Linked DNA regions of Homo sapiens. The protein of the gene in region 1 interacts with the protein of each later gene in a pairwise test. Each region holds a gene or a part of one and is shown in the gene's direction. Other genes may lie near its edges.

Region 1 (7,253 bases):
ATGATTTCAAGAATTGTTCTTTTAGAAAATTTCTATAGAAAGGTTCAATTTTACCTTAAGACTTGTGACCAATAGCACACATTGTAACATGGGGGACCGGGGTTAGGAAAGCAGTCTGTGGCTATGAAACAGATCAAAACTAACTAGCCATTAGGGAATGAAACCCATGACCTCCATCTCATTAGTACCAGGCTTAAGCCAAGCTGAATGAGCTATTCATTGATAACATTATGATACCTATTGGATGAGCCTTTACTCTTTACTTAAAAATCCCTTTCTCGGTTCCATATTATTTGTACTAAAATATGATTGTGTTGCTGTTATGTGAGAAGGAGTAGGGAGATACATGGCTTTCAAGGAGACTTCAGAAATCAGACTGAGCGCAGTGGCTTATTCCTGTAATTCCAGCACTTTGGGAGGCCGAGGCAGGAGGATCACTTGAGCTCAGGAGTTTGAAACCACCAGGGCAACATAACGAGATCTCCATCTCTACAAAACATAAAAAACATCAGCCAGGCATGGTGGCATGCTCCTGTAGTCCTAGCTACTTGGGAGGCTGAGGTGGGAAGATCATTTGAGCTTGGGAAGTCGAGGCTGCAGTGAGCTGTGATTGCGCCATTAAACTCCAGCCCAGGTGACAGAGCAAGCCACTGCCTCCAAAACACAACAACAAAAACTTCAGGAAGCAGGGCCAATTAAAAGGAAAAAAAAGGGAAAAAATCAATTACTCTGTTTACTTTATCTAAGTAGGGAGAGAACTGAAGCTCCTAAAACGTGAGGTGACATGGCTAATGGTTCCCAGTGGTGGTAGCAGAACTGGATTAGAACACCAGTCTCTTGGACTTCACTCCTGGGCACTTTCAATTTGTGAAGGGCTGGCTCATGGAAAATGTAATCCTTGAATTTTTCCAGGACATGAGGGGCCTGTCTTATCAATGCAGGACAAGCATAGTGTTAGGAAAAGGGTGCTAAGCATTTTTGTTTGTTTGTTTGTTTGTTTTGAGACAGAGTTTCGCTCTTGTTGCCCAGGCTGGAATGCAATGGTGCAATCTCGGCTTACTGCAACCTCTGCCTCTTGGGTTCAAGTGATTCTCTTGCCTCAGCCTCCCAAGTAGCTGGGATTGTAGGCATGCACCACCATGCCCAGATAATTTTGTATCTTTAGTAGAGACGGGGTTTCACCATGTTGGCTGGGCTGGTCTCGAACGCCTGACCTCAGATGATCCATCTACCTAGGCCTCCTGAAGTGCTGGGATTACAGGCGTGAGCCACCACATCCTGCAGTAGCTAAGATTTCTAAAATGAAGTGCATGCAGCATCGACATTCCAGGATGGAGTACAGTGAGAAGTTTTGAATGACATCCATGAGGGTGGGGGATGGGGTGATGAGAGGCTTCAAAAATTCTCTGGAGAGTGAGTACAGTGATTTGTTTAAAACATTTTCTATGTAAAATGACTTTAGCTTCAGAATATTTGGGAATGTAGTAACCTGAAATCATTTTGGGGTGGACAAGTTTGGATATAAACAAATAAATATAAAGAAAAATAAAGGAGTGAGCTCATAGCTGAGTGTGGGACGTCAGGGAAGTTATAGACCTGAACCTGAAGCATGGATTTGGTATTTACATGTGGCAGGGTGGAGGAGGGTGGGATGGGAAGGTGGGAGAGTGGTAGAGGATGATGAGATTAAGTGATGCCGGAAAGAAGGCATTCATCATGAATCATTAACAAGTGAGTGAATGGTGGAAGGTGGAAGGGATGGCAAAGAAGCCTCTGCTAGTATATTACTATTTAGTGAACAGACGGAGAAAGGTCTGGTAAATAGTACACATTTATGCGAAGAATAAAATCATGTTACCTAGCTTCTAATAATGTATTTTACCTCTGTTTTAGATAGTGGCACCAAAGGATTCTTTGTAGAAAACTTTGACAGCAGCCTTTAAAGTCATTATTCCTACAAGTGAGTACTTTCAAAATCTTTACTATCCTGAACCACATCTTGAGAAAAATTGAGATGAGGTTTTAATAATGATCTCCGGAGGAGAAAGAGTGTATCATAGAGAGCCTCAAGTCATCCTTATTTCTGTTAGTGAACCTCTGTCAGTACACTTTCTAGGCAAGCCTTGCTCTTGAAACACTCGGACCTTTACTCAGGACTTCTCTGATTGGTTCATGTTCCCAGACACCTTCTGGGAAGAAGAATGGCATCATGTACCCTGGATGTTTGTCCTTCAAGAATCAGCTTAGCCATCACTTCTAATGTAAAGCCTTTCCTTATTGCCACTGGTGCTCAACTGTGTTTGCTCTACATACCTCTGCTATAACATTTTCCATATAACATTACTGTAACATAATGCCCAATTTACTACACTGTCTCTCCACCAGGCTGAATTTCTTGTAGCTGGGGCCTAGTTTTGGTCACCTGTTTATCCCCAGCACCTTGCAGAGCACTTAGCACAGGTAGGCCATTAATACACATTTATAGACTGTTGAACCAGTATCACTGAAAACATAAGTACAACAGAAATATCATCTAGAAATTATCTTGAGAGAAGGAATCTAAAATTGATTTTTCAGAAAGAGGAATCTAAAATTAATTTAGTTTCCATGGGGGCAAGGTCTTAGTTTTGTACATAGCTCATGCCCTTTCTTTCCTTCTCCTGCAGTTTGCCTTTGGCCATTTCACTGCTTATTATTCAAGGGCTAGAGAGAAAAGGAGAGAAGCTGAAATTCAGATCAGTTAATTAAGCTGTTTGGGAACAGCTCTGAAAAGGGTTGAATGTGGTGGGTGAAATCAATAGTGAACTGGTGGTTTGAGATCATCTACAGCTCTCACTACCCAGCCTTCTCTACTTCACACCCCTCAGCCAACGGCTGTTCAACGTATGAAGCATTTTATAAGTTCATTTCAGCTTCACAGGATTTGTCCGTTTGTTCTGGAGTACATGTTAAGGCATATGGCCTGATTTTTGGTTTGGAGAATTTGGTCACTACACCAACATTAGATATATCGGGTGGTCTGCTTCTATAGGGTAATTTCATGGTCCTAAGGAAAGAATTTAAGAGTTTATGTTCTGAAACTGGTTCAAGAAACATTCCTTAAGTGAAAAAATTCAATCAAGAATAATATTCCCTACACTGGAGAAGGATTTTTAATATAGAACTTCCATCTGTGATATATTTAAATTCTAGGCCTCAGGCAGCAGTTTCAGAAAAGGGCCTCCTTTACCCTTTATTAGATGCAAAATAGTCTACTCTGGGGATGGGAACTTCCTTTTACCTCCCCCCCCCCGCAAAATCTAAGACATGCTTCCCTCATTCCTAAAATCACACATGCTTTTTTTTTTCACACAGCAAACTCTGCTATTGACATCAAAATGTTTATCAAAACTTTAATTACTCGAATTATTTTGTAAGTACTCCTATTAAGTGGAAAAGACCAGTGAAGCTGTCCAAACGGCGGCCCGCAGTCAATGCGCCGAAAGCTGTCAATACTGAAATGTAATACTCTCTTGATCTAGTTTTGACGCTTTAACAAAGACAGGTTTTGCCATTTAGGACCGCTCAGCCATCTTGACTGAATACCTTAAGAGGGTAGTCCTGGACCTGCTTATTGCCAAGGGACTTTCACAGTGTTCTAAGTTACTGTAGGAATCTCAGCCTATTACTCGACAGAGGCCTAACATGTTGGAGCTGTCAATAAAGATCCGCACTTAGGAAGCGGAAAGAAGGCACAAGTTTTATATGCACACTTTCTTTATTATGCATTGTTCCAGCCATCAAAGAGAGGGAGATTGTACTCTCCCAAAGCTTACAACTTTGTTACTTTTCATGACCTGTAGCATGTATTTAGCCTTTGGGCAGTGTTTGTGCAAGACTAAGGCCCACTCTTTAATGGCTGAATGCATACATTTCACAGCACATGGTGGATTCGCTGCTCTGAGAATTGCCTTTAAAAAAAGTAAAGTGAAAAATAGACAAAGAAATCTGGAACCTTAGCAGTGTTTCCTATTTGTTTGGACTGTTCTTGAACCAGCTCTGAGGCGGTGACCGGGCTATTGAAAAGATGCACCTGAAACAGGATCTGCGGGCAGCTGCATTTGCCACCCGGCTTTATTGCTGCTTTCCAGCGGCGAAGGCGCAGCAGCAGTAACAGGGAAGCCAGAGCGAGCCTCCCCGGCAGCGGCGGCGGCGGCGGCGGCACCGGCACCAGCGCAGTTTCCCCTCTCCCCAGCCCTGACTCTACGCGCACATGCGCATTGCGCCCGCAGCCCTGGACCATTTGTCAGGACTACTCGTGAGACGGAGAAAAAAAAAAGAGAAAATTTGGGGGTAAGAAGCGGTTGATCGGATCTAATCTCTAATTAATCTGAAGATTTGTCCGTGCAAAAGCCATTCATTTATTTTTCTGGGTGAGGATGAAAGTTAAGAGCCCTATAGAGGGAAGGAAGCGCACCCTCGTCTTGTGAAACAGATCAGGGGAGGGGAGGGACAGAAGGGGTTTCTCCCCCACTTCTCTGCGCCTCTGGGAAAGAGGAGAAAACTTAATCCCGGGGAAAAAAGTGGGCAAGTGACTCGGAAACGGCTGGAGGGGGAGTCTCTGGGCATCTCACTCTGAAGTAGTGAGTGCGAGTGTGAAAGAGGAACAAAAGAGAGAGAAAAGAGAAAGGAAAAAATGGGGGGAGGAGAGACTTGTATTTTTTTCTTTGCGCGCACACGGGGAAGGGTGTGGGGGGCCGTGCGGAAGGGAGCCGGGGCGAGGCGGCCGCGTTGGGCTCAGGCTGGCGCGCAGGCGGCGGGATGCGTGTGGCCCCCTCCCCCGCGCCCCCCGAGCTTGTCACTTTGGTCGCTTTCGTGACACCGGGCGCGGGGTGGGGGAGCGCGGCGGCGCCGGGCTCCACCGGGGTGCGTGTCCGGGTGGGCGCCGCGGAGCCGCAGCCCAGGCGGCGAGCGCGGCCGCCGAGGCGGGGGGCGCCGGCGGGGGGCGCGGGGGCGGCCGGGGCCGCGGATCGGTGCGGCGGGAGGCGCGAGCCCCGCGCGCCGCCCCTGCGGCCCCCTCCGCCCGTGTGGCCTTTGTGCCGGGCGCGCACCGGAGAGCGAGCGAGCGGGCGGGCGAGCGCGAGAAGTACAAGTACGGGAGACCGAGGCAGTGGGAAAAGAGGCCGGGCCACTTTCTCCCCTTTCGGGCTGCGGAGAATGGACTGGTTGAATGTGCAGGCGCGTCTCCCCGGCGTGTGCTGTGTGTGTGCGCGGCGGAAAGGCCTGCCCGACTCCCACCGCGCACACGCACACTCACACGCACGCACACACACGGACCCGCGGCGGGGCTCGGCGGCCGAGAGTTTGCGTGGCTTCCTCGCCGCCTCCCTCTTCCCAACCGAGTGTGTGAGAATTTCATATAGATCAGCTCCAATTTCCGCCATTTTGGGAAAGTTGCACAAAAATAAACCCTCCGGTTTATTTCTGCCCGAGGCAGGAAAGTGCTTTGGGAAGCGAGGCGGCGCGGGCCCGCGGCGGCCGTCCGCGCGGGAGAGGGCGCGGGCCGCGGGCCGGGCCGGGAGCCCGCGCCGTCGCGGCGTTCGCCCCGCGCCGTGCCGCGCCGCGCCGGCCCGGGTGCGGGCGCGGGCGCGGGCGTGTGTCGGGAGGCGGCGGCGGCGGTCGCGGCGGCGGCGGCCGCGCCGGGGCGGCGGGCTTGTGGGGGGAGGGTGGGGGCGGCGCGGGGCTGCTTTTCCTGCAACTTGTTTACGCCTGCCTTATTCTGGGGAGGAAAAGAGGGGTCGGGGCCGGGGCCGGCGCCGGGGCCACCGCCCGCCTCGCGCCGCGTGTGTGTGCGGTTCCGGAATAATGGGCTTTGCACACTCGCGTCCTGGGCCCCGCGGGCCGTCCTCGCGCCGCGGCGGCGGGGCGGGGGGAAGTAGAGGCCGGCGGGGGTGGGGATCGGGAAGCGCAGGAGCCGAGGCATCCGCCGCGCGCCCCGCGAGCTGGTGGAGTGTGGGGGCCGCCGGGCGGGGAGAAAAACTTGAGAGCCCTGGAAGGGGAGGAGGGCACGGTGGCACGGGCGGGGGGAGGGCGCAACTTTTGGACTGGTGGTAAAACTTTAATTACCTTTAAAGAAAAAAAGGCCCTGCGATTCCCCCCTCCCCCAGTCCCGGTCAAAGCACAGCCCGCAGCGCGACCGTGAGAGAAAGTTTAAAAGCGGGCGTGTTCCTCCCGGGTCCCCGCGGAGGGCTGGGGGCGTCGGTCTGTCCGTCGCGCTCAGAGGGAGGTGGGGGTAACTAGCCGCTTTCCAGGGCGCGGGGACCGCGGCTCTACCCCACCCTTCCACGGGAGACGGAGGTAAACGTTGCTTCGGTTTCCCTTCTGAGTCCCCCTGCTGCCACCACCCCGCTTCCTTTTCCTCCCCCTCCCCGCCGATTTTTTGAGGGGACCCGAAAAACGGAGTCCCTTTCCTTAGGCAACTTCCTCGGGCGCTGTGAGCACGGCCCTCCCCCTCACCGCCCCCACCCCCAACGCCTCGCATCCCTTGGCCCGCTTCTCCACCTCGGGGCCACCGCCAGAAAAATGCATTCGAGATCATTCAGAGTGCACAGAAACAAAAATAGATTTTTAATTGTTAGGTTAGGGGAAACTGAGATGAGAAATAAGAATTTGGGGTGGGGGGGCGCGGCCGGGGCGAGTGCGTCCAGTTCTCCTTTTGGTTTTCCTAGAGCGTTGTTTGTGATGTCTTTATTGGTTTAGGGAGTCCGAGAGGCTCTATGCTGGCTATCTCGGTCGCGTGGATTTTTGCGCAAGTTTTTAGAAAAACACTGACTCGAGTAGAGAGCATTTCTCCGGAAAGTTTCAAGTGCAGCAAAATAGCGAACGTGCAAAACTGGCCAAGGGGAGACCTCTAGTGGTTGAACGCGTCTTTTAAGTTCGGAAGGCCGAGAGCAAAGTTTGGCCTTTACTCGTAGCTACGTAGTCCGTTCAGACGTGGAAGTAATTAGAGGACCTGAGCGAGCAGCCAGATGTTGTGTGAAAGGATGCTGATCAGAAATTGAAAGTTTAGTAAATCGAAGCAATGAATTCTGAGGACTCAGACCCTGTAACTTCCATCCGACATGAGTTATATGGGAAAGACACTTTGCTTTTATTCAGAGATTTGAGATTGATCGCTCCCTGAATTGGAAACAATTGTTTGCTTTTGCATTTATCGGTGTCTGTACCTCTGATCAATTTTTAATTAACGAGTCTCAGCTGATGACTTTATTTTG
Region 2 (7,026 bases), on another chromosome or scaffold:
GGGGTGGGTATCAGAGGTAGAACGGGCCACTTTTCTGTGCAATGCCCATGCTCTCCACACTACCAGCTTGCCTGGGTGCAGAGGCCCCGTTCTGCTGCTGGCCCTGCCCAATCCCCTGACTTATCTCCCTCTCTCTTCCCACCCTGGCTGCTTATCAGCTCCTGGGGGTGGGGCCAGGGGGCCTAGGGGTGAGGTCTCCTATGCAGCAGCCACGTGACAGAGGTTGAGGTCGTATGTTGGGGAGCTGTACCCTTTGTCCCCCTCCTACCCGCCACACCTGCCTGTGTGCACACAGACAGTAAGCCACAGGTCTGCAGCCCAGGGTCAGAGGTGCAATGCCGTAGGAATGGTGGGCCCGGCTTGGCACTGCCCTGGACTCCAGGTAGCAGAACAAGGCTAGCATTAGGGCCAGGCTGTGAGGCTTATCCCACAGCCACCTGCTTACTAGTTGTGTGAACTTGAGTGAATGACCAAGCTTTCTGAGACTCAGTTTCCTCATCTGTGAAGTTCTCGTGCCCTCTTTGGAGGGTACAGATTCTCTCTCCAGTTAATATGTGTTAGTTTCCTTTCCTTTCCCCCTTGCCATCCTGGTCGATAGCAGCTCAGCTAAACCAACTGAGAAGTCTGGTCCTCTGCCTGGGAAGTGGGATTCGAGACCTTGCGTGGGAAGCTCTGGAGTCCCTGAGGGGCCAGAGTTGGGGATCATAACTTGGCTGGCAGCATGGGAGGTCAGTTCCCTACAGCTTTCAACATCTCTCTCTATTAAGGCACAAAGATGGGCATTCATGCTCACTGCGTGCCGCTCTATGTCCCATCCTTCCTTCACAGATACCCTCCCTGCCTATGCTGAAAACTGCTTGTCTCTGGTCCCCTCTTGCCCCTATAATACAGATGAGTTTCAGGAAAGCTTTTCTAGAGGGGTGGTAACAATAGCTAGTGTTTAATAGTTGCTCATTAAGGGCCAGGCATTTGTCTGAATATGAAGACTGAGACATATTACTTAGTACATGAATGATCTCATTCTCTCCCTCCATTCCTTCCCATGTCTGGGGCTTAGGAGGTGGATCTCCAATCTCGCCTGCTGTACCTGTTATCTAAGGGATCATCCTGGTCCCCTCTCTATGCCTGCCCTTCCTGCCCCCTGCTGTCTTGTTATGGGATCCCAAAGCCCCAAATGTTGCCACCAAAGGGATCCTACCCACCTTCCTACCGTGACACCTTCTTACCCCTGCCTCTCTCTTCTCTCCACAGGGATCTCTGGACAGGACAAGACTCCGAAGCTACTCCCCCAGCACACAGCCCGGGACCCACAAACCCAGCTTGCCCCCAGCCCTCCCACCTGCCACTCCCTGGCCCCTCCCACCGCCCGCCCCCCTTGGGGCGCAGGGCATGGTGTGAAAGGCCAAGTGCTGAGGCGGGTATCATGGGTGCTGTGCCCTAGGGCCTGGGTGGCAGGGGGTGGGTGGCCTGTGGGTGTGCCGGGGGGGCCAGTGTGCCCACCCCAGTCTCTTGGCGTGCTGGAGGGCATCCTGGATGGAATTGAAGTGAATGGAACAGAAGCCAAGCAAGGTGGAGTGTGGGTCAGACCCAGAGGAGAACAGGTAATGGGTTCAGCAACTAGGTCATGCCAACTCCTAAGCAGCAGGCATGGGCACCTGGCTGAGCTCTCCTTTAGGCACCGCCTTTAAGCACCTCTGTGGGATGGACGTGAGGCCAGCAAGCCTTCTGCCTACCTTTGTCTGGCAGATGAAGTCATGTTCAGATGTGACAGGCACTTGGATTGAGAGATGCTCATTTTGAAGCGGGGAGCGATACAGAGCAATTACAGGGAGCACATAAGGGGCTCTTCCCTAGACATTGCTGGGCAGTCTCAGATGCCCCCAACGTCCCTTCCACCATTGCTGCCCTTACCTTGAGCATGTGGGATCCAAACAGCCTTGCCATTTTCTTCCTCTCCCTACCAGCCCATTTACTATCTGACCACAAGTGTGTTGTCCACAAGCTGCGGTTCACGTAATACATTTCAGGGCACATGCACCAGTAACTATTGGTCATAGCCCAAGCTTATATTCGGAATCTATTGGGAGCCCCACAAGCTCTTCCTTGTTCATGGTCAAGGGCGGGCACTGCGATGGGGCTCCTCCCAGAAAGTGCACGCCAACCATGATGGTTTTGCTTCCACATGGGTGAGGTGTCAGCCCTGCACATACACCAAGGGATGGTTACCTGTGATCTGCATTGCCCTTGAGGAGCCCAGAGGGTCTCTGTCTTTTCTATCAGCTCCAAGTGGCACAGAGCTTTGTCCCAGTTGGCACGGTGCCCTGGGAGCTGGGTACAGCCTGTGCCTATGGCCAGGGAGAGGGTGGGGGTGGGGGTGCTCCGGGGAGCAGTGTGGCTGACTGTTGCCTAGGAGATCAGATCCCGAGCCAGGAAGCCAGAGGCCTGGCCAGGCAAAGCCCTAAGGCCCACAACTGGGTCCCTGGAGGGTAGAGGAAGTAGATGGAACTCACAGCTGGGCAGGGCATGGGGTAGCTCCCCTCCCCCAAAGCCTCACCCCAGGAAGGACTCTGAGGACGATCTGGCCTGTCGCTGTGTGGCTGTCACTTGCAGCCCCTGTGTCTCCCAGCTTAGGCTTCTGTGGGTCTGGAAGAGTCTGTGCTTAATGTTTGGAGAAAGGCAGGAATGCCAGTTCCCAGTCTCCTAAGACTGCAACCCCTCCCCCATCACCTTCCCCTCCCCCATGTCTATGCGCCACCTTGTGGCTATCTCTAGGACTACACTCAGAGGCTGTGAGTCTGGTGGTAACTGCTGAAGCCGCTAGCTCAACTGGGGCCTAGGTGGGCTGAGTTCCCCTGCACCCAACCCTCTGGGAGGCGTGAGGGAGACCTGACCTTTCAGCCTCATAGGAAGTAGACCGGAGTAATCCCCACGGGGCGTGGAGCATAGGGTTGTCTGTGACTGTGACCCTGGCCAAGGTCACTGTGTCAGTGTGTTGGGAGCTGCATCCGGCTCCAGGAGGAAGGGGCCTGCAACATGCCACACGCAGGGTGGGTGCGGGAGGTTATACAATCCTTGCATGCATGTAGAGGGCTTATGTAACCTGTGTGCACCGAGGTTATGCAACATGTATGTGGAGAGCCTGGCAACATATATGTGCAGTGGCTGAGGGTTGCTAATAATACGCTGCACAGAGGGGCTCAGTCCCGGCTCTGACTCTAGCTCATGGTGTCACCAGGCACAAGCAGGGTCTCAGTTTGCTGCTCTGTTAAATGGAGGCTGTGCAGAGGGTGTAGTGTTTTCTATTGCTGTGGGTTATTTAGCATGTGTGTATGACCTGGAGCTCAAGCAACACGTGCACACTGGAGGGATGAGGGTGGTTTTATGAGGTGCCTGTGCAGAGTGTTGTGTAACACATGGGCATATCCTAGAGGTTGTATAGCACATTTAAGAATGCCCTGAAAATTTCACAGGTATGTTGGCCCTGGTGCATACTCACCATCCATGGGTTTATAGTGAAGGTTGCATGGTTATTCATCTGTGCCGGTGTTATGTTGCATATGTATGTGTGTGTTCTAAAGGCTACATAGCTTTAAGCATATCCTGAGAATTCTTCCAGCGTATTCGTCATGTACTGAAAGATGAGGATGTCCTGCAGATTATGGGTGCTTCAGGTCTTCTGGCGGGTGAATGTGTGTGTGTTGGGGCTCTAGAATATGCTTGTGCCACAGCCAAGCCCCTTATCTCTCTCCCCTGCAACTTCCAGATAACTGGACCCTTTTAAGCATTGTCAGCTGACCCTGGGGGGTGGGAGGTAGAATGAGGACACAAAATGGAAAGAATCAGGCCTTGGGGGATTGCATAAGCCTCTCGGATGAGAAAGGGGCTACTCGAAGACTGCTCTGTGATTCTGCCCACTTTGCCTCCATCCAGTGCCAGGTCACCAGATGGAAAGCGAAAAAGAAAGAACGGCCAATGTTCCCTGAAAACCAGCATGTCAGGTGAGGCTGGCTGTGCGTGCCCCTTCTCCACGTCCCCAACCCCACCAAACCCAGCCAGGGCTCCTCTGGACCTGGATGTGGAACAGTAATTCATGTGTTCCCTGGGGGGAGCCTCCTAGAGGGCTTGGGATGGACTTGTCTGGGGGTGAGAAAGGTAATGTGGGATGTGCCCAGCTTTTGAGGGTGGATTAGGTCAGGACGGCCTCTTCCCTCTTCCCCTAATACCCTCATCTGAGGCCCTACCAGAATCAGGGCCTGAGCTGAAGGACTGAGGGGCTGTATTATCCCCAGTGAGCAGCTGACGTTTATTTTTCCCTCTCCACCATCCTCTGCCTTGTAGATAGATCAAGAAGAAAGCCCTGAATGGGCAGTCAGAAGAACTGAGATTCTTCATACTCTTAGGGCAGAGATGGACAGGTTCACCTCGTGTCTCTCTAGGATTCTACCAGGGAGGCTGGGCTAGGAGAGGGGTCAGAAACAAAAAGTTGAGGGATGGGGAAAAGTGTGAGAGCCTCTCTGCTGGGACTCCAAGCCATGCCTGCCTTCCTCCATCCTTTCCTTCCTCCCAGGGTATATCCCTAGTTACCTGGACAAAGACGAGCAGTGTGTCGTGTGTGGGGACAAGGCAACTGGTTATCACTACCGCTGTATCACTTGTGAGGGCTGCAAGGTATGGAAGCTACCTCCTGCCCCTCCCCTGCCACCTGAGCCCCCATATTACTCCCTATGTCACCTAAAGCCCGCCTGTTAGGTCATCACTTTTTTTTTTTTTCTTTGAGACGGAGTCTCACTCTTGTCCCCCAGGCTGGAGTGCAGTGGCGCGATCATGGCTCACTGCAACCTCCGCCTTCAGGTTCAAGTGATTCCCCTACCTCGGCCTCCTGAGTAGCTGGGATTACAGGTATGCACCTCCACACCCAGCTAGTTTTTTTGTATTTTTAGTAGAGACGGGGTTTCACTATGTGGCCAGGCTGGTCTCGAACTCCTGACCTCAGGTGACCACCCGTCTCAGCCTCCTGAAGTGCTGGGATTACAGGCATACCTGCCTGGTTACTTTCTCTTCTCTTCTCTTATTCATTCATTTACTCATTCATAACTCCTCCTCTGCCACTCACAGGAAAATTGCCTAACTTCTTCGAGCCTTAGTTTCAGTTTCTTCATCTATAAAATGAGGATAATCATTCTCTCTACCTTATAGCATTGTTGGGAGAATTAAATATGTTGGGAGATAGTTCACTTGAAGTGTTTAAAACAGTGCCATTGGGTGCTGTGGCTCATGCCTAAAATCCCAGCCCTTTGGGAGGGAGGCCAAGGCGGGAGCATCCCTTGATCCCAGGAGTTTGAGACCAGCCTAGCTAACACAGTGAGACACTGTCTCTACAAAATTAAAGAAATTAGCTGGGTGTGGTGCCACATGCCTGTGGTCCCAGCTACTCAGGAGGCTGAGGTGGGAGACTGCTTGAACCCAGAAGGTCAGGGCTGCATTGAACGGTGGTGGCGCCACTGCACTCCGGCCTGGGTGACAGAGCAAGATTCTGTCTCAAAGTAAAATAATAAAATAAAATAAAAAATAGTGCCATGTGCATAAGAAGCATTTGATAAATGCCAGCCATCACCCATTCATTCAGTGTATTCTTAGGTGTGAGAGTGTAGTACGTACCTCGCCTTCAAGCTGCTCACAGCCTGTCAGAGAGAGAGACACAACTTGAAACAAACATCAGTGTTATTCAAAATGTGGTTCATGGACCACCTGTCCTACTAGTTAAAATGCAGATTCCCAGCCTTCATCTTTTTTTTTTTTTTTTTTTTTTGAGATGGCATCTCGCTCTGTTGCCCAGGTTGGAGTGCAATGGTGTGATCTCGGCTCACTGCAACCTTCGCCTCCCGGGTTCAAGCGATTCTCCTGCTTCAGCCTCCTGAGTGGCTGGGACTACAGGCACCTGCCACCACGCCCAGCTAACTTTTATATTTTTAATAGAGACAGGGTTTCACCATGTTGACCAGGATGGTCTTGATCTCTTGACCTCGTGATCCGCCCGCCTTGGCCTCCCAAAGTGCTGGGGTTACAGGTGTGAGCCACTGCGCCCAGCCTGCCCAGGCTTCATCTTAACCCTGCTCACTCAGAGCCCTTTTGTGGAGCCCAGGAATCTTCCTTTTAACAGAATCCCGGAGTGTTTCCCATGCACCTGAAAGAGCGAGAGCCAGTACTGGGGGGGTAGTGGGAGCTGGGAGCACAGAGGAGAAGAGGACAGCAGGTTCTTCCAGGCAGAGGGGATGACAAGGTCATAGATTTTGGGAGGCCTAATTGTTTTGTTTTGTTTTTTTTGAGATGGAGTCTCGCTCTGTTGCCCAGCCTGGAGTGCAGTGGTGCAATCTTGGCTCACTGCAACCTCCACCTCTCGGGTTCAAGCAATTCTCCCTGCTTCAGCATTGGTAGCTGGGATTACAGACACCTGCCACCAAGCCTGGCTAATTTTTGTATTTTTAGTAGAGATAGGGTTTCACCATGTTAGCCAGGCTGGTCTCGAACTCCTGACCTCAGGTGATCTGCCTGCCTCTGCATCCCAAAGTGCTTAAGAGGCCTAATTAGATTTCACTTTGATCATTTCAGCCTGGATAGCCTTTCCAGGATCACCTCCTAAAAATGCAAGGCCTTCCAAGAAACAGAATTATTTAAATCCCAGCACTTTGGGAGTCCAAGGCAGGCAGATCACCTGAGGTTACCACACCCGGTGGCACTGTTTTAAACACTTCAAGTGAATTGTCTCATTTAATTCTCCCAACAGTGCTATAAGGTAGATAAAATGATTATCCCCATTTTATAGATGAAGAAACTGAGACTCAGAGAAGTTAGGCAATTTTCTTGTGAGTGACAGAGGAGGGATTATGAATGAGCAAATGAACGAATGAGTAAGGTCAGGAATTTGAGACCATCCTGGCCAACATGGTAAAAGCCTGTCTCTACTAAAAATACCAAAATTGGCCAGGTGTAGTGATGTACGCCTGTAATCCCACCTACTTGGGAGGC
Region 3 (7,026 bases), on another chromosome or scaffold:
CAATTATATTTAAAGTAAACATGAAATTGTTGGGTCTGTAAACCTGAAAGGAGTTTATTATTTTTATTTTCTTTTTCAAAACAGAAAAAATGCCTGTCTTAAAGGCTGAAGCGTCACATTATAACTCTGACTTAAATAACTTGCTGTTCTGCTGCCAGTGTGTGGACGTGGTATTTTACAACCCCAATTTAAAGAAAGTTGTAGAGGCCCACAAGATCGTTCTCTGCGCTGTAAGCCATGTTTTCATGCTGCTTTTCAATGTGAAGAGTCCCACTGACATTCAGGATTCCAGTATCATCCGAACTACCCAGGATCTTTTTGCTATAAACAGAGATACTGCATTTCCAGGTGCTAGCCATGAATCTTCAGGCAACCCACCATTACGAGTCATTGTTAAAGACGCCCTCTTCTGTTCTTGTTTATCAGACATCCTTCGCTTCATTTATTCAGGTATCTTGTCAAGTGGTTCTGGTTACTTACAATCTCATAAGCTTTGGAAATGAAATGTGCCTGTGACACTCAAGGGTACTGGTTAGTTTTACAGTGGTCTTTACCTACCATCTGAGATTAAGATTATACATGAAATATTATTTGCTTTATATATAAGAATTGGTCCAAGCTTTCTGTTTTCCTTACAAATGTACTTGCCTCATCTTTTCCCTATCAATTTCATTTTATTGTGGTAAAATACATAGAACATAAATTTTACCATCTTAACCATTTTTAAGAACACAGTTCAGTGGAATTAAACACATTCATAATGTTGTGTAACTATCACCACCATCCGTGTCCATAATTCTTTGCATCTTATAAAACTGAAACTCTATACCCATTAAACGATGATTCCCCATTCCGACCTCTTTCCAGCCCCTGACAGCCACCATTCTACTTTCTGTCTCTGTGATTTTAACTCTCCTAAGTGCCTCATGTAAGTGGAATCATACAGTATTTGTCATTTTGTGATTGATGTATTTTACTTAGCATAATGTCTTAAAGGTTCATCCAAGTTGTGGCATGTATCAGGATTTTCTTCCTTTTAAGGTTGATAATATTCTGTAGTACATATAGACCACATTTTGTTTACCCATTCATTCATCCATGGACGCTTGGGTTGCTTCCACTGTTTTAGCTATTGTGAGTAATGCTGCTGTGAACATAGTGTACAAATATCTCTTTTGAGACTCTGCTTTTATTTTATTTTTTGCATATATACACAGAAGTGGAATTGCTGGATCACATGGTAATTCTGTTTTTGATTTTTTACTGCCATACTGTTTTCCACACTAGCTATACCACTTTATGTGCCTACAAACTGTGCACAAGGGTTCCAATTTCTCCACATCCTTGCCAACACTTGCTGTTTATTTTTTTTAATAGTAGCCATCTTAATGGGTTTGATGTGGTATCTAATTCTGGTATTGATTTGCATTTCCCTAATGATTAGTGATATCAAGCATCTTTTCATATGTTTTTGTATTTGCCTTGGTTTTAAATCTACTTGTAAAAACCATAATCTGCCAAACAAGTATGTTAATATTTTATTTCTTTAAAAAACATCCAAAATATGAAATGTGAGAATTTATTGTCCAATTTAGTTTTAAAGACATAAAATATTCCAAGAGTAAATGAAATCAAGTGTCTACACCTTAAAACCTAGCTATTCACTCTTCGGTTTGACTCTTAGGTTTTGTAGGGCGTGAAAGAGAGAATTGCATTCAGCTTACGGACTGGAAATCAATATCCAGTGTTAGTTGAGGTCTAATTAACTTTGGCTATGACTATCATAGACGTTACTTTTTTTTTTCCTTACTGTGCCCTTTCTTTTTAAGATTTAGCTTATCAAGTATTTTTCTCTTTGCCCTTTTAAAAACTCAGTAGCAACTATATTTTAAAGATGGAAGTTCTATCTGAGTCATTTTAGCAAATGAATTGAAGGTCTTACATCTAAGTGTCCCATGTAAGAGTGGAAAAGAACAGATGTAAAATGAATTTTAATGTAAGCATCTAAATATAAGTTTTCTCAGAACTCCTGTCTTTAATTTTCTTTACCCACTTCAAATCATGTAGCGATAACCTGTTAGGCTAAGGTCACTCCTGCTCTGCAGTGTGTCTGGAGAAACATTTATAATTAATTTGTTTTTAGGGTTCAAGTAAAGCCTAATTGGGAACAGACAAAAAGTTTAAGGTTTGCAAGGCAAGTATCATTTCATACAGGTAGGGAAATTTGGGGCAGCCTTTATTTAAGTAATTGATGTTAAAAATAAGGTATTACTTTGTTCATGTGGTTTGTGGTCATGTAATTTTATAAGTTAAAACTTAAATTATGATTTTGAAAAGTACAGTTGCAGCACGCAGATTTATGTGGATAAAAAATACATATTGGAGTAGAATGTGGTGCTAGGTTAGTGAAATATTGGCTTGGAAAAAGCATAAATTAAGCACCTGTACAGCACACACCCAGCACATTGCCTTCAACGGGTTCTCTGTAAGTTTTAGTTGAATTAAAGAGTAGGCTCCAGTAGCCGGGCATCATCATATCAGTAAGCCAAACTATTTAAAGACTTCATTTAGTACTATAGATTTTGACGTTTAAACTTAGAATGTCACAGTTCAGAATTTAAGATTTTGAAAAACTAACATGTTTACATGTTAAGAGAAAAAAGATGTTTTTAATCATATGTTTAAGGAACTGTGAGGGATGTGACTTTTGTATGATAATTTTCTGTTGAAATTACATGAATTATTCAGTAGGCTTCCACAATTATTATTGACTACTTTCAAAGGCATATGAGCACTCTGACGTCTTATATCCTTTTTAACATAGTAGCAGTAAAATAGCTAGATGTATCTCCAGTGGCTGATCCTGCCTAGCTTTCTCCTAGGGGGAGTGCTTTATTTAATTGCAAAATTAATACAGGCAGATGGAAAAAAAGAGAAAGAAAAGAAAAAAGTTATCCTTCTACCCTAGACCCTTTCCCCGGAGTCATTTACCTGTTGTAATTTTTTTATGCACTCATTCTGATACTGTTTGAAAGAGATTAATATTCTGGGGACATTTGATTAATAAAAGTGTAATCCTAGGTATCTGCTGCTTTCCAGGGATCACAGGCCGTTTCCCATGGCTGGAGCGTAGAGTGAAAGGTGATGGCTGGTGGGTGATGAGGTGGGCAAGGCCTGTGGAAGCTGTTCCTGCTGCTCTTAGACTTGTGCTAGAGTTTTAAGCATGATCAGACTGGGCTTTAGAAAGCTCATCTCTGGTTGTGGTTGCAGGGTGGAACAGTGCGGCCAAGACAGGCATTCAATCAGGAGGTCCCATTACTCTGGCGATCAGCCTCAGGAAGGCCAACATTCAGACAGTGGGTGGCCCTGCCATTGGCCCTTCATCGTCTAGACCAGTGCTTTTCAAACCTTAAAGTGTGTGCAGATCATCTGAGGATCTTGTTCCTGTGGAGATTCTGATTCAGTTACCTGGAGTGGGGCATGAGATTCTGCATTTCCAGTAGTCTCCGAGGTGGTGCTGGATCTCTGGACTGCCAGAAGCAGCTGGAATACCTGCTTTTGGAAGAACTGGGAACCAGCCAAAACCAGCAAACTAGGGCCTAGAATTCAGTGCAGAGGCCCAGGAAGGCTACCAAGTTAACAGCTTAGGATTCAAAGTAAAAATGGGGTGAGCTGTAAGGCTGACTGATGCAGTGCTATTCAGAACTGGGGCTCTCAGTGCCCTGTGTGTCCCTGACGCGAGGAAAAATGGATGCCTAGTGGTTGGGTGGAAATTAAGTAAGCCTGGAATAGGGATCGGAGGGCAGGCAGGCATGATGGTGTGGAGAGCCTGCTGAGCTACAGGTCTTCAACCAGTTCAGAGTCCTGGCTTCTTAACCTGACACTGACCCGTCCCATTTCGGCTGTGATCTCTCCTTGTACGTCACGGCCAAAGCCGGAGGTGCTGTCTGGTCTGAGCAGGGGCACGGGCCATTGACCCGGGGCTGCAGAGATCCAGATGCTGGTTAAGGAAAAGGGAAAATAACTGGTTCTGCAGGTATCTATTTATTATTCTTTAATTATTTACAGATTACAACCTCTGGCTCAAGGAAAAGTTTCATTTACATTATGTTAAAAAGAGATATCAAAGCTGTATTTGCACAGAAAAGACAATTTTGAAAAATGCTGAAAATTAAGAGAAAAAAATTTACCCAGATTCCACTATCAACAGAAAATGTTTAAACATTTATTGCTTTGTTTGATCCTCTAGTCATTTGTTTGTGTATGAATAAGTGACACTGTTTTTGAAAAAATGTATTTTGTAATCAAATCAAACAAAAATTTTAAACCTACGTTTTTCTCAGAGACTTCAGTAAATGGGCCAGGCTTGTTTTGTTTTGTTTTTGTTTTAACATTTTTAAACCTGTGAATAGAATACAAGTGTTAAGGCACAGTTATGCAGTGGTTTTCCCACAGAAGTGCTGTGGTCTGCCCTTGGGTTATGCTAGAGAACCATTGAAGACAGGAGTTGTTTGTTTGTGTTCCCATCAGATGGGTTGGTAAAGCAGAGGTTGAACTCCATCATGTGCTCAGGAATATTTGCCTTGAGCAAACACGGGCTAGAGAGTTATAATAAGCCTATCTCCTGTCCTTGTTTTTTTTTTTTTTAAAGAACCAGATTACAAAGAATATCTTAATTCTTTTTAAATAACATGCTTTTTTTAACCTTTAGGAATTTGAAATTTGGTGTGTGTTATGTCACCATGAACATTTGGTTCGTTATTTAGGAGCGACCTGTTTAACAACAGTCCGGTTAACATTTTACACCTATCTATTCCTATTCAAATTTTTGATTCAGTAGACACAGTCAAGGTATATCTGTTTTGTATACGTTAGTTTTCTATTGAATAACAACAAACACTGCATAATGTATAAGTACTTAACTACTAATCCTAAGGAACGAGGAGTAATGTGATAAGTGAAGCCAGCCCTTTCCTGGTCTTCAGGGAGTAATTCTTACATGGCATACAATTGTAACATTCTTATAATACTTGATACAGTGTTATGGTTGCACATTCTTGAGTCATATGATCTCAGATGGTTAGGAAGTGAAGTATTTGTAAGAACCTCAAGAATTTAGCTTTGAGCTCTTCCTGCCACAGATGGCCCTTAGAGTTTCACATCACTTATTGAAATGCCATCTGAGTAGACAAATATGTGGAAGCAAGCTTTCATCTTCAGTTTACATTCTCCAGTTCTTAGAATCATTCCGTGGCATGTCCTTTTCTGTATTGCATAAAAACACAGCCTAGTATACATGAGTATACCATGCGCTCTAAAAGTCTAAGTGGATTCAGTGCTTTAAGAAGTTAACTAAAGAAAATCCCAGTCAGTGATGCAAGATGTCATCCTGCCCTTGTCTGCAGTTGATCAATCAGTAAAGTTATGCAAGATGAGTAAGTTCTGGAGACCTGCTGTATGACATTGTGCCTATTGTTAATGATATCGCATTATATACTTAAAGTTTTCTAAGAGGGTAAATCTGATGTTAAATGTTTTTACCACTGGAAAAATAAAAGGAAAGTCCCAGCCTTAGGATTACTGGTTTATTAGGACCTAAAAGTCTCAAAGATGACTTGATTAATGTTTCTAATTATGAAAACAGCCCAATCAGCAGTGTGCTCTTGAGAATTAGTCTTACTTTCATTTTCAGTGAGTGATTCTTCCTGTGTGTGTTCTCAGACAGTTCAGTGGCCTGTGGGGATTTACCTGCTACTGATTCCATCTATTTAGATTATTTGATGCTTGCTTGCTTTTAGATAATCTTCTGAATGGAGATATTTTATAGGTGTTTTTTAGTTAATATGCTTTTACTTAAATAACAATGTAACTTTTACATATATAAGTATGTAAAAGAACACAGAGACAGTACTTATGTTCTTCTTTAGATTGGATGAGTGCAGACATAAAAAATACTTACATGTTCCCTTTCCTGCATACCACTAACACTGGGTTTGGATAATGGCTGAAATTTCTTTCCTTTTTCCTCTTTTTTTTTTTTTTTTTTTTTGAGACAGGGTCTCACTCTGTCACTCAGGCTGGAGTGCAGTGGCATGATCATGGCTCACTGAAATCTCCGCCTCCTGGGTTCAAGCGATTCTCCTGCCTCAGCCTCCCAGGTAGCTGGGATTACAGGCAGACGCCACCATGCCCAGCTAATTTTTGTATTTTTAGTAGAGATAGGGTTTCCCCATGTTGGCCAGGCTGGTCTCGAACTCAGTGGTTGAAATTTCTAAAGGGAAAGCAGTGGCCGTCAGCAGCATACCATGCACATTAGGGTCACCAGGGAGAATTTTAAAACACTGATGCCAGGGGCTTCAGGCCCAGAAATTCTAATTCACTTGATCTGGAGATGAGACCTCCTCTCATGGTATTTTATAAAAGATCTCAGGTATTTATAATACACAGGTATGGTTGATAATCACTGGCATAGAGTAATTTTATTGATCTGGGATCCATTGGCTTCTAAGGGGTTCTTACACTCTCACATTGTTATACTGACTTTAATGTTTGTGTGCACATGAAATTTTCTGGTCATACAATCCCAAGAATTTATGAGATGGGAAAAGAGGATGTGGCCACACAGTTAAAAAGCATTCATGCAGAAAGAGAAAAACAGAAATCATAGAGCTCTTCTACACTACACAGCTTTGAGAATTTGAGGAGGAAGGGGAGCAATCAGTGAAAGCATAAAAAGAGCTAGCAAAGGCAGAAAGAAGCAGTGGTGTGCTGGAGCTGGCACCAGCTTGTGAGAGCCCAGTTGTGTTTATCATCCCCATTTCCTTGTTCTGTGATGTCATGTTGATAGCATCAAAAAATGGCAAATGCTACATATCATTTGACTCCCTCCCCCAGGAGACACTGTAAGTATTAGGAAGGCCAGGTGGGGAGAAGTTGAAAGGATATGCATTAGTGCTTAGTGCTGCAGGGCTCAGCTGTAAGAGCCTGAGAGCTTCTGGACTTGCAATCTGCCCCTTCCAATTGGAT

Evidence for each region.
Region 2: the proteins of L3MBTL3 (region 1) and THRA interact in binary tests that used the Homo sapiens proteins (3 or more experiments, as listed by UniProt).
Region 3: the proteins of L3MBTL3 (region 1) and RHOBTB3 interact in binary tests that used the Homo sapiens proteins (3 or more experiments, as listed by UniProt).

The regions. Positions count from the first base shown.
Region 1 is NC_000006.12:130,014,333-130,021,585, forward strand, and holds the start of L3MBTL3 (lethal(3)malignant brain tumor-like protein 3), read left to right. Parts: upstream 1-4,248; 5' UTR 4,249-4,332; exon of another isoform or gene 4,333-4,412; intron 4,413-4,468; exon of another isoform or gene 4,469-4,622; intron 4,623-4,727; exon of another isoform or gene 4,728-4,905; intron 4,906-4,988; exon of another isoform or gene 4,989-5,131; intron 5,132-5,311; exon of another isoform or gene 5,312-5,381; intron 5,382-5,932; exon of another isoform or gene 5,933-6,336; intron 6,337-6,394; exon of another isoform or gene 6,395-7,253. UniProt on the Homo sapiens protein: Is a negative regulator of Notch target genes expression, required for RBPJ-mediated transcriptional repression. It recruits KDM1A to Notch-responsive elements and promotes KDM1A-mediated H3K4me demethylation.
Region 2 is NC_000017.11:40,072,941-40,079,966, forward strand, and holds part of THRA (thyroid hormone receptor alpha), read left to right. Parts: exon of another isoform or gene 1-728; intron 729-1,251; 5' UTR 1,252-1,548; coding exon 1,549-1,601; intron 1,602-3,930; coding exon 3,931-3,998; intron 3,999-4,567; coding exon 4,568-4,668; intron 4,669-7,026.
Region 3 is NC_000005.10:95,755,312-95,762,337, forward strand, and holds part of RHOBTB3 (rho-related BTB domain-containing protein 3), read left to right. Parts: intron 1-84; coding exon 85-450; intron 451-7,026. UniProt on the Homo sapiens protein: Rab9-regulated ATPase required for endosome to Golgi transport. Involved in transport vesicle docking at the Golgi complex, possibly by participating in release M6PRBP1/TIP47 from vesicles to permit their efficient docking and fusion at the Golgi.